Homo sapiens: one gene and its partner. The protein of the gene in region 1 interacts with the protein of each later gene in a pairwise test. Each region holds a gene or a part of one and is shown on either strand. Other genes may lie near its edges.

What was found. Proteins that work in one complex are often made in the same cells at the same time.
Region 2: the proteins of GAREM2 (region 1) and ITSN2 interact in a two-hybrid assay, tested with the Homo sapiens proteins (one large-scale study listed by BioGRID).

What each region holds. Positions count from the first base shown.
Region 1 is NC_000002.12:26,185,724-26,191,094, forward strand, and holds the end of GAREM2 (GRB2-associated and regulator of MAPK protein 2), read left to right. Parts: intron 1-465; coding exon 466-635; intron 636-1,507; coding exon 1,508-2,534; 3' UTR 2,535-3,940; downstream 3,941-5,371. UniProt on the Homo sapiens protein: Probable adapter protein that may provide a link between cell surface epidermal growth factor receptor and the MAPK/ERK signaling pathway.
Region 2 is NC_000002.12:24,203,338-24,208,092, reverse strand, and holds part of ITSN2 (intersectin-2), read left to right. Parts: intron 1-1,817; coding exon of another isoform or gene 1,818-1,846; exon of another isoform or gene 1,847-1,849; intron 1,850-2,795; coding exon 2,796-2,879; intron 2,880-3,674; coding exon 3,675-3,848; intron 3,849-4,309; coding exon 4,310-4,467; 3' UTR 4,468-4,755.

The DNA of each region.
Region 1 (5,371 bases):
CAGAACATTTTCTCCCTGCCCGTAACACCCGTCAGCATCCCATGGAGTCCTCTTTGGGGTACACGACTTGTAGGGAGGGATGCAGGTGGCAGACGCTTCCTTCCCTCTGTCCCTTCGGCTTTCCTTTGTCCTCTGCTTTCTCTCCTTTTCCTTGAGGAGGGAGCACGTCTGCTTAACCTGTTTTGATCTACCTTTGTGTTCTTTTTCTTAACATCCATGATGGATTTCCAAGGAACAGGAAGGAGGCTGTGGGACAGGGTGTGGGTGCGTGAGATAGGCTGGGAAGGCTAGGAAGGGTGGGGTGGCTGGCTGACTGGATGAGCAGTTGGGGTGCAAGGCAGCCTATTGGCAAAGTGGGGCAAATGTCAGGCCCAGACAGCCCCCTCGCCCAGCTGCTTGGGAAGGGGAAGATAAGGAGTGCCAGCTGTTTGGAGTCGAGGTGGAGTCACCGCCCTCTGCTTGTAGGTGAAGGAGGAGTGCCGCCTGCTCAATGCCCCTCCAGTGCCTCCCCGGGGTGGCAATGGCAGCGGCCGGCTCTCCAGCAGCCCCCCGGTTCCCCCTCGCTTCCCCAAGCTGCAGCCGGTACATTCCCCCAGCTCCAGCCTCTCCTACTACTCCTCTGGCCTCCAGGATGGGTGAGTCCCTGCCTTCCCTTGGTCCTGAGTTCTAAGGTAGATCAAGGCAGGGAAGGGTGAGGAGGGGGAACTACAGTGCTGAGGAAGAGGAAGTCTTGAGGCCTGGGAGATTCCCGAGGGTGCAGCTCCCTGTGCAGTGGCTCAGGGATTGGCACTGCTGTCTGGGTGTCTTGGGGCCTGGGGCCCAGTGGCCTGTTCTGCCCACTTCAGCTTCTTTCTCTCTTAAATGTTGAGGAACGGATGGGAGCATTGCCCTGGTCCCCTCAAGGTGGGGACTTTGCTGCAGGATAGAGAGAAGAGAGCTCCTTGCTGTTTTGAAATTTTGATTAAGTTCAGGCCAGGTGCGGTGGCTGATGCCGGTAATCCCAGCACTTTGGGAGGCCGAGTTGGGTGAATCACTTGAGGTCAGGAGTTCAAGACCAGCCTGGCTAACATGGCGAAACTCCATGTCTTCTAAAATACAAAAATTAGCCGGGCATTACGGCACATGCCTGTAATCCCAGCTACTCGGGAAGCTGAGGCAGGAGAATCGCTTGAACCCGGGAGGTGGAGGTTGCAGTGAGCCAAGATTGCACCACTGCACTCCAGCCTGGGCAACAGAGCGAGAACACCATCTCAAAAGAAAAAAAATTGAAAGAAAATATTTTTATTAATTTCAGTTTCGTTTCATTTTTCCCCTGTGTTTTCTGACCTGGGCTGGGGGATGCTGGAAGGAAGAACACGGCCATTCCGGAGGGTCTTGGGCTGGGGCTGGGGTGCAGGCCCGTGTTGCTGAGGTCATAGTGGTGCTTGGTTGCAATGCATGTGTGACCCTATCGGATTCCCTCTCAGCCTCACCTGTCCTATGTGTGTGTGTCTGTCTCTGTCCACAGGGCGGGTTCCCGCAGTGGCAGTGGCTCCCCATCGCCGGACACCTACTCCCTCTATTGCTACCCATGCACCTGGGGAGACTGCAAGGTGGGCGAGTCCTCTAGCCGCCCAGCCCCCGGTCCCCTACCCTCAACCACACAGCCCAGCCAGGCCTCCCGGGCCCTCACAGAGCCTCTGAGCGGTCGAGCCGCCTCCCTTCTGGGGGCTGACACCCCTGTTAAGACCTACCACAGCTGCCCTCCTCTATTCAAGCCCTCACATCCCCAGAAGCGCTTTGCTCCGTTTGGAGCTCTCAACCCTTTTTCCGGGCCTGCCTACCCCTCAGGCCCTTCAGCGGCCTTGTCTTCTGGGCCCAGAACCACCTCGGGTCCTGTGGCTACCTCTGGCCCTGCGTATTCCCCAGGCCCAGCCTCGCCAGGCCAGGCCTATTCAGCTGCTCCCCCCTCCTCCTGCGCCCCCTCCTCCTCCTCTTCTTCTGAATGGCAGGAACCAGTCCTGGAGCCCTTCGATCCCTTTGAGCTGGGGCAGGGCAGTTCTCCAGAGCCTGAGCTGCTGCGTTCTCAGGAGCCCAGAGCAGTGGGGACACCTGGGCCTGGACCCCGCCTTTCACCACTTGGCCCCTCCAAGGCCTTTGAGCCTGAAGGTTTGGTGCTGCACCAGGTCCCCACCCCACTGTCACCAGCTGCTCTGCAGGGACCCGAGGCGGGAGGAGCACTTTTTCTAACCCAAGGGCGCCTGGAAGGGCCTCCTGCCAGTCCCCGGGATGGAGCCACAGGCTTTGGAGTCCGAGATGCCTCCTCCTGGCAGCCCCCTGCTGACCTGTCTGCACTCTCCCTGGAGGAGGTCTCTCGCAGTCTGCGTTTCATCGGGCTCTCAGAGGATGTGGTGAGCTTCTTTGCCCGAGAACGCATCGATGGTAGCATCTTTGTGCAGCTCAGTGAGGACATCCTGGCAGATGACTTCCACCTCACCAAGCTGCAGGTCAAGAAGATCATGCAGTTCATCAAAGGCTGGAGGCCCAAGATCTGAACTGCCCAGCTGGAGCTGCACAGCTGGAATGCTGGTATGGGGGCCCCAGGTACAGCACTCCGGAGGAGCAGGTGCTGCCTGCAAGAAGGATCTATGTCGAGACTGAGGCTGCTCAGCAGCCACTGGGTGGATCCAGGGGAGATGCATGTGGAAATGTGGTCCTCTGGGGTCAGACCCCTGCACGGGACATCTTGCCTTTGAGTGTGCAGAGTACATGGGGAAGGGGCTGGGGGCACCACTGTGTACCTGGGCCCAGTAAGGCATTTGCCGTGATTCCCACAACGGGGTCAAAAGCTGGCCTTCAGGGTGACCTAACACCACCTCATGCCCTGCTATAGACCTTCACAAACGACTTCCACTGCTGAAGCCTGTAGGCTCTGTTTAGAGACAAGAAGATGGCTGGTAATTTAAGCACCGATTTCCCAAGTGCCCACTCTCCTTTGTGCTCTGTTGGCTTTTGGCCTAAAGCTGCCCCAGAGTGAGGGTGTAGATGTCTGTGTCTGTGAGATGCCTTTCCCTTCCCCCTCTGCTCCACCGTGGTTGAGGGGGGTGGGGCCTGGCCCCGCACACAGGTGAGTCGTGTACAAGCCTAACCCATGGCACCTCAGAGGCTCCACCTGTGGGTCCTGGTTCATGGGTGACAACTTTGGAAGAGCACAGCTCTGCAATTGACCCGACCCACTTATCTAGTTAGGAAGCCAGACACTGCCCAGATGACTCTAGCACCCTGGCTTCTGCTCTGACTTTACTGCAGCTAGTCATCCATCCGTCAGGTGGCGTTCAGTCTCAGAATACTGATTCCGTGGAAGAGCAGGTTGATTTAGGTCAGCTTCTCCTTGATTCTAGAAGCAAGCGGTAGTCAACCACCTCCAATTCCGCCAATCTCTTGCCCCCATCATTTGTCTCTGACAATACTTGGTGTTTTTCCCTGGTTTTCTGTCACTGGCACAGGAGGGTACAGTTGGGAGAGTGCGTTCCTGGAGCTCAGTCCTGCATTTGTTCACGTGCCTCACAGCAGGCCTTTGTGCCCTTGAATCTCAAACATGGGGATCTGCTTGGTACCCAGAGCTCTGGTCATTGTGTCCAACCACACACCCCACCCCATCCGTGTCCTCCATCTCACCCAGAACCACAGGGTGCCCACTAGTGTCAGGGCCCAAAGTGCCAGCCTTCTCTTCTGCCTTACCTAGTCTACCTATTTATTTCCTCCACTTTTTATCTTAAAAGTAGCTAAGCCATGCTGGTGCCCATACTCCAAGCAGGCTGCCTCAGCTCAGAGAAGTGGTCAGAGAGTAGAGCACAGAACCTGTGATGTGGGGACATTTGGTTTTCTTGCAGATCATTTAATGAATCCTCAAGGACTAATGAAATAAATGCTAGACTGCTGAAGATGAGTACAAGTGGCATTCTGGGTGCCAGCTGCTTTCTTCTTTTGAAAACAAGGCCATGGGGACCCATGGGCACAGTGTATATGCCTTCTGGCAGGAGAGGACTGATGGAGGAATGATGTGGGTGTGTGGCCATTCCCATGTCTGTGGAGGCGGCTGGTGGCAGCCTTCATTCCCTTCTGCAGGGCCCTCGCCAGCCCCTCCCTACCCTTCAAGAACCCCCACCCCAGCTTCCACTAGTTTCAACATAATTCACACCTACCTGGTGTTACTGAAGGGAAAGACCCAGGCTCAAAGCTGAATGCCACCAGCCAGGGCCCAAGCTTAGCTTCCTGCATTGGCAGAATGCCGGCTTCAGGCTCTCTCAGACCAAATTTGGAAACCGGTTAATGGCTTTGGTGCAAGGGATCAGCTCCCTACTCTGGTCATCTGAAAACCTCAACTCAGAGGTGACTTGGTTTTAGAGTCTGGCTTCCTAGTGACCAAGCAGAGCCAGACCTGATCTCCTTGCCTGCCAGTCCCAGCTACAGAGCTGGGACCAGGGACATATTTGAAGTACAACTGGAGCAGAGGCAGGAGTAACTGGTAATATCTGACAATTTAGAATGCAGAATGTGATGGGACTGGAATTACGATTCCGCACACACTCAGCGTGGATCCTTCTGCCAGACCCAGTTAGCCCCAGTGCTGTTTACCCAGACTGGGCACTGCTTCTGTAGGAACTTTCCATCCCAGGGGGTGGGGTGGGGAGGGGCTGAAGCTTTGGGGGAGTGCAGGTGCTGTGGGGGTCAGCACTCCTCATGCTGCTCCCGTGCTGCCTGATTACCGCACAGGCATTTCTGGGGCAGCCCTGCTATGCAGGATCTCCGAACATCAAGGGAGATGTCAGCGCCTCTGCTTAGCACCAACGTTCCCACAACCATCCCAAGAAGCACCTATGAATGAGGCACACCCAGAAAAGAAATGGGTAAGATCACACAATGAGGAAATCCAGGCTGGGGAAAGAGGTTTAATATCCCGGTACACCGTGGTGAGAAGCCTGGGCAAAGCATCTGCACAGACAGGTGTGTGTGGTTGAGCCCACCAGGTCCCACTTTCTCTCATCCCAGTCCCTCCCTAAGGTGCTGCCTAGAATTCTGCACACACATTCTTACTCCCCCAAAGCACAGGGCTTTCTTCCAGATTGCTTTTTGAAGGAGGCGTTTAAACCAGAAGGGCAAAGATGCTGACACAGAGTTTGGTTTTTATTGTTATGTGTTTGGCTGGGTGCAGAACTGCCCTCACCACCCCTGGCCACCCTGGCCTCTTGGGAGGAACAGGCAGAGAGGTGGCTTCAGATGGCTCTTGGCTGCCACTCTAGGCCTCGGGGCTTATACAATGAGCAGTGGGCTCTACCTTCCAACAGGAAGTGCAAACTAATTCGAAGTCACACTTCACCAGGAGGGAGAG
Region 2 (4,755 bases), 2.0 Mb from region 1:
TGAAGCTACTACTGCAAACCTCCCTGGGGCTCCTGCCCACACAGACACGGGCTGGCAGTGCCAGCTCCGGGACCTCCCTCTCTGCACCACCTCTATCCCCCCCACTCCACTGCACCTTCTCCACTCCTTTCTCTCCATGACTCACCTCACCTCTGCTTGGGCTGTGGTGCTCCATTACATGCCACACCTGTGGTCTGTCTCCCTTCAGCTCCTGAGCAGCCACTGCTCCTCCTCACCCTCCTCTAGGGCCTGCCATCCACCCTCTCCCTTTGCAGCCAGGGGGCCTAGACCCTAAGTCTGCCCTCTCCCCATCCTTCTGCCCCTGCCTCCTCCCCCTTCTCACTTCACCAGACTTCAGTCCACGTCCTGTCCCCACCAGTGACACCAGTGGCCTAGTTAGTGGCTCAGCTCACTTTCCCTGCCCCAGCTCCCTGCACTGATGGCAGTCACTGAGGCGCTGCCTTCCCTCTGGACCCCATGGCCGCCTTCCCAGTTCTTCTTCCACCCTTGCCCAGGCCTCTCCCCGACCTCTGTAGCGCTCTCCCTCGGGGACCCCACCGACCCCCAGCTTCAGGGTCAGGCTAGCCACACTCTCCCAAGCCCGCGCCTCTGAACAGCACCCTCCAGAGAACCACCTGCCCCGCTGCTCCCACATCACACATCGGCTTTTCCCAAGGGACCACCAGCCTCCTTCCAGCAGCAGCTCCTCCTGGGACCCTCTGTGGACAGTAGTGTGGTCCCTGGCCACCCAGGCCCCTCCCTGGCACCTCACACCTGGTCAGCTGCACTGCAGTCCTCCTCCCTCGCCACTTTCCCATCGCCCTTTCCTGTCCCCGTATCACAGGCCCCCGATCTCCCACCCAGGCTGCAGCACAAGGCTCTCTTTCCTCTCTGCCACCCATCCTCTTCATTTCTGGAGTATTCTTTTTTCCAGAGCTGCTCTTATACCTCTTCCTGCTGAAGTATCTTCCCTATTGCCTCCCAAATTAACGACACATTTCTTACCCCACACTCAGGGCCCATCCCCACTACTACCTGCCACCCAGCCCCATCCCTAGCTCTTTCCTGTGCCCGGCCCATCCAGCTGCCTAGTTGAGCAGCCCATTGTTGCCCTGCCTGGCCTTCCCATGTGAGCTCCCCCTCCAGCTCAAGTGCTCTGCCCTCACCTTAAATTCTTCCCATCCTTCAAGGCCCACGTCAAACACAGCCTCCTCCATGACACCCTCTTGCCCTAACCAGTGTGACTTCTACCTGGACCCCCCGCTGTCCTGAGGCTGCGATCATCCTCCGGGCGCTCATCCTCTGTTGCCTCTGCTTGCGCCCTCTCAGTCCCTGCTTTTCTCACTTAATGGCCATAAGCTCCCTCAAGGCAACTCCCTCCCACATCGGGGCCAGCATGTGACTTATGCCAGTGGGGCTCCAGATTTGTTGCACCGGTGATGTCCTCTGTGTTCATGGCACAGATCACTCACCTGCTCAGTGGAGCCGCAATGGTCTTTGTAAAGCACCCCCCACCCCACCCTGCCCCACCGTGGCCTTCAGACCAGAGCTCCCACATTCTTCTCCAGCCTCCACATGAATGCCAGGCCCCAACCTCCCTGCTGCATCTCCAGCTGTGCCAGGCCAGCCTGTGGCCTCCACCCCACAGGGGGCCTGTGCTCTGAGCCAGCTGCATCTCCACCTTCCTCCCCGCCGGCCCCCTGCATCTCCACCTTCCTTCCCGCCGGGCCCCCCCATGCAGCCTGCCCTCCTGCCTGGGCCTCCCACCAGCTTCCTGGCTGCTATAGTTGCAGCTCTTTATGTGTTTTTTTATTCAGGTTTCCCCCATTTTGTTATATACTCCTAAAAGGTATGTTTAAAACAGCTTTTGCTAATTTAGTGTTATTTTAATGGTACTTTAAAAGCTTGCTGTTGAAAAATCAATGATTGATCATTTCATAACGCATATGATCTCTTAATTGGCCAAAGATGTCAATCCGGTTTTTCTGCCTGAGTTTTGCTTCCCATCAGCATCTGCATATGTTGCTGTGCATCGTCCGTGCGTTCAGTCCTTCCCACATTTGTCAATTACTTTGTGCCAGGCTCTGTGCTAGGCTTAACTGAGCCTGGACTTTGGTATCTGATGTTTAAATGTTGACCCTGCCATTTAGCAGCTCTGAGTGGATCACACTCCAGTCCTTTCTAAGCCTCAGTGTTTCTCATCAGTAAAATGGGGAGCTACATTATCAGGTAATTATGCAGTTTAAATAATATAATTTACATAAGTCTAGCACATGCCTAACACAAAGTAAGTATCCAGTAAATGTTAGCTGCTATTAAGTGCTGCACAAATACCATGTATTATTTTATTAATATTACTATTTGCTAGGCAATTGAGGGGTTAATATAAGGATGATCGAAACAGTCCATGCTCTACCCTGGCTCCTGTCTGGCAGAGGAGACAGACATTACACACGATTTCAGACCCAGCAGGCTGTGGGCTGCTCATAAGCGAGGGATACTGGATGCAGAGGAGGGAAGGGATCTGGGAGGTAGATGTGGGATCAGACCTGCATCTTGAAGGATGAGTAGGATGCTGACGGGCAGAGAAAGCAGGCAGGGCAGAAAGAGCAAGCAGGGGCTTCCTAGCAGGCAACACAGCCTGGGGAAAGGCACAGGGCAGCCAGATGCTGGGCTGTTGGGCCCAGGGCAGTGGCAGATGGGGACAGGGAGCCGGTAGTGTTATGGTTGGTTTGAAAGACAGGGTCTGCATCCTTGGAGAAGAGATTAATGAGACTTGTCTTCCTCTTTTGTAGCCCGCTCCCAAAAGACTTCAGGCATTGGGCGCCTGATGGTGCATGTCATTGAAGCTACAGAATTAAAAGCCTGCAAACCAAATGGTAAATACTGCCTTGATTCATTCAGCAGACATAACTGCCCTGCCCCAGTTTTTGCTGATGACTTTTTGAGACAGAGTCTCAGTGTATAACCTAGGCTGGAGTGCAGTGGCACGATCTTGGCTCACTGCAACCTCTGCCTCTGGGGTACAAGTGATTCTCAAGGCTTAGCCTCCTGAGTAGCTGGGATTACAGGTGTGCACCACCACGCCTGGCAAATTCTTGTATTTTTAGTAGACACAGGGTTTCACCATGTTGGCCAGGCTGGTCTCGAACTCCTGACCTCAAGTGATCTGCCCGCCTCGGCCTCCCAAAGTGCTGGGATTACAGCACTTTGTCACTGACAAAGTGCCACTGCGCCCAGCCACTGATGACTCTTCTGAACACTGAATAAAGGAATGCTTTCTAACAGTGTGTCCAGTGCCACTAAAATGCGCATATTGGACCAATATTCTTATCACTGTTTTCCCAGTAAGTGCCAGTGCCCGCCTTCCCGAGTGTGTCTGCGCCGAGGAAGCATGCAGCAGGTTGCAGTGACACTCACCCAGGATTGTTCCGTGCGGAGTGGTCCTGGCGGTGGAGCTCTCGGCCACTCCCCAGTTAATGCTGCTGTCAGCACTGGGAACTTGGAGACCCTGTTACTAGACCACAGGGATATGGTGCCCCAGGCAGCGGCTCCTGCTGCCATGGTCTCGAGTGACCCATTATTGGAATCCTGCTTCTGCTCAGGGAGGGCACTGTCAGTCGCTTCGTTTTACCTGCATGCACCACATGTGTCTGTGGTTTGTTTTTGTTCAGGAAAGAGCAACCCATACTGTGAAATCAGCATGGGCTCCCAGAGCTACACCACCAGGACCATCCAGGACACACTCAATCCCAAGTGGAATTTTAACTGCCAGTTCTTTATTAAGGATCTCTACCAAGACGTGCTGTGTCTCACCCTGTTTGACAGAGACCAGTTTTCACCAGATGGTAAGTGTCGCTCAGCCAGGGGATCTAAAGGCTTTCCCAGTTTCCTAGATCCTGGAGTCCAGATCTAGGGGCTTCAGCTGTGTGCAGACCCCATGCCACTTCAGGGAAGTGACACAGGCCTGTGTCATCTCGCTTTGGCAGCAGGTGGGTGGCCTTCCTCAGGGGAGGAGGTGGCCTGAGATGTGTTTCAGGTCTTTGACCCATCACTCCCTACACACACGACGTGAACACCACTCCTGGAGCATTCTCAGAATGGAGATTTGAATTCCATGTGGCAGCTTCTCACACACAAACCTGCCATCATTCCCCACACACCCACTCACGACATTCAACAGCCATGAGCCAAAAGAAGTTCCTTGTTTCAGATTTGAAGGTTTTATGAATCCACTTCTTCCGGATGTAGCTCTTTAATGATTTTATAAAGAAGAAAGACTTCTGACTCTCCTGTGTTTATTCACCAGATTTCCTGGGTCGTACTGAAATTCCAGTGGCAAAAATTCGAACAGAACAGGAAAGCAAAGGCCCTATGACCCGCCGACTGCTGCTGCATGAGGTCCCCACCGGGGAGGTCTGGGTCCGTTTTGACCTGCAGCTTTTTGAGCAAAAAACTCTCCTGTAGGGGTTCTAAAGGACAGCACCAGCGGGACAGCCCACAAGGCTGGGGCTGGAGAATGAGAGACTGCGCTCTCTTGGGGCTGAGGGAGCACCATGCAGCTTCACCCCTCACAAAGCCATGCACGCTGGGGGCTCTGTTTTCCTGCACACTAAATAGCTAGCAATCTATGCAAACACCTTTCCCATAAAGAAACCAAACCCCATAGTACAGTGCCTTGTCCTAGTGTTCACATGTTCAGCTCTGTTTGTTTAGATGCCAAGGTTTCCATTTTCAGGGCTATAAAAAGTATTA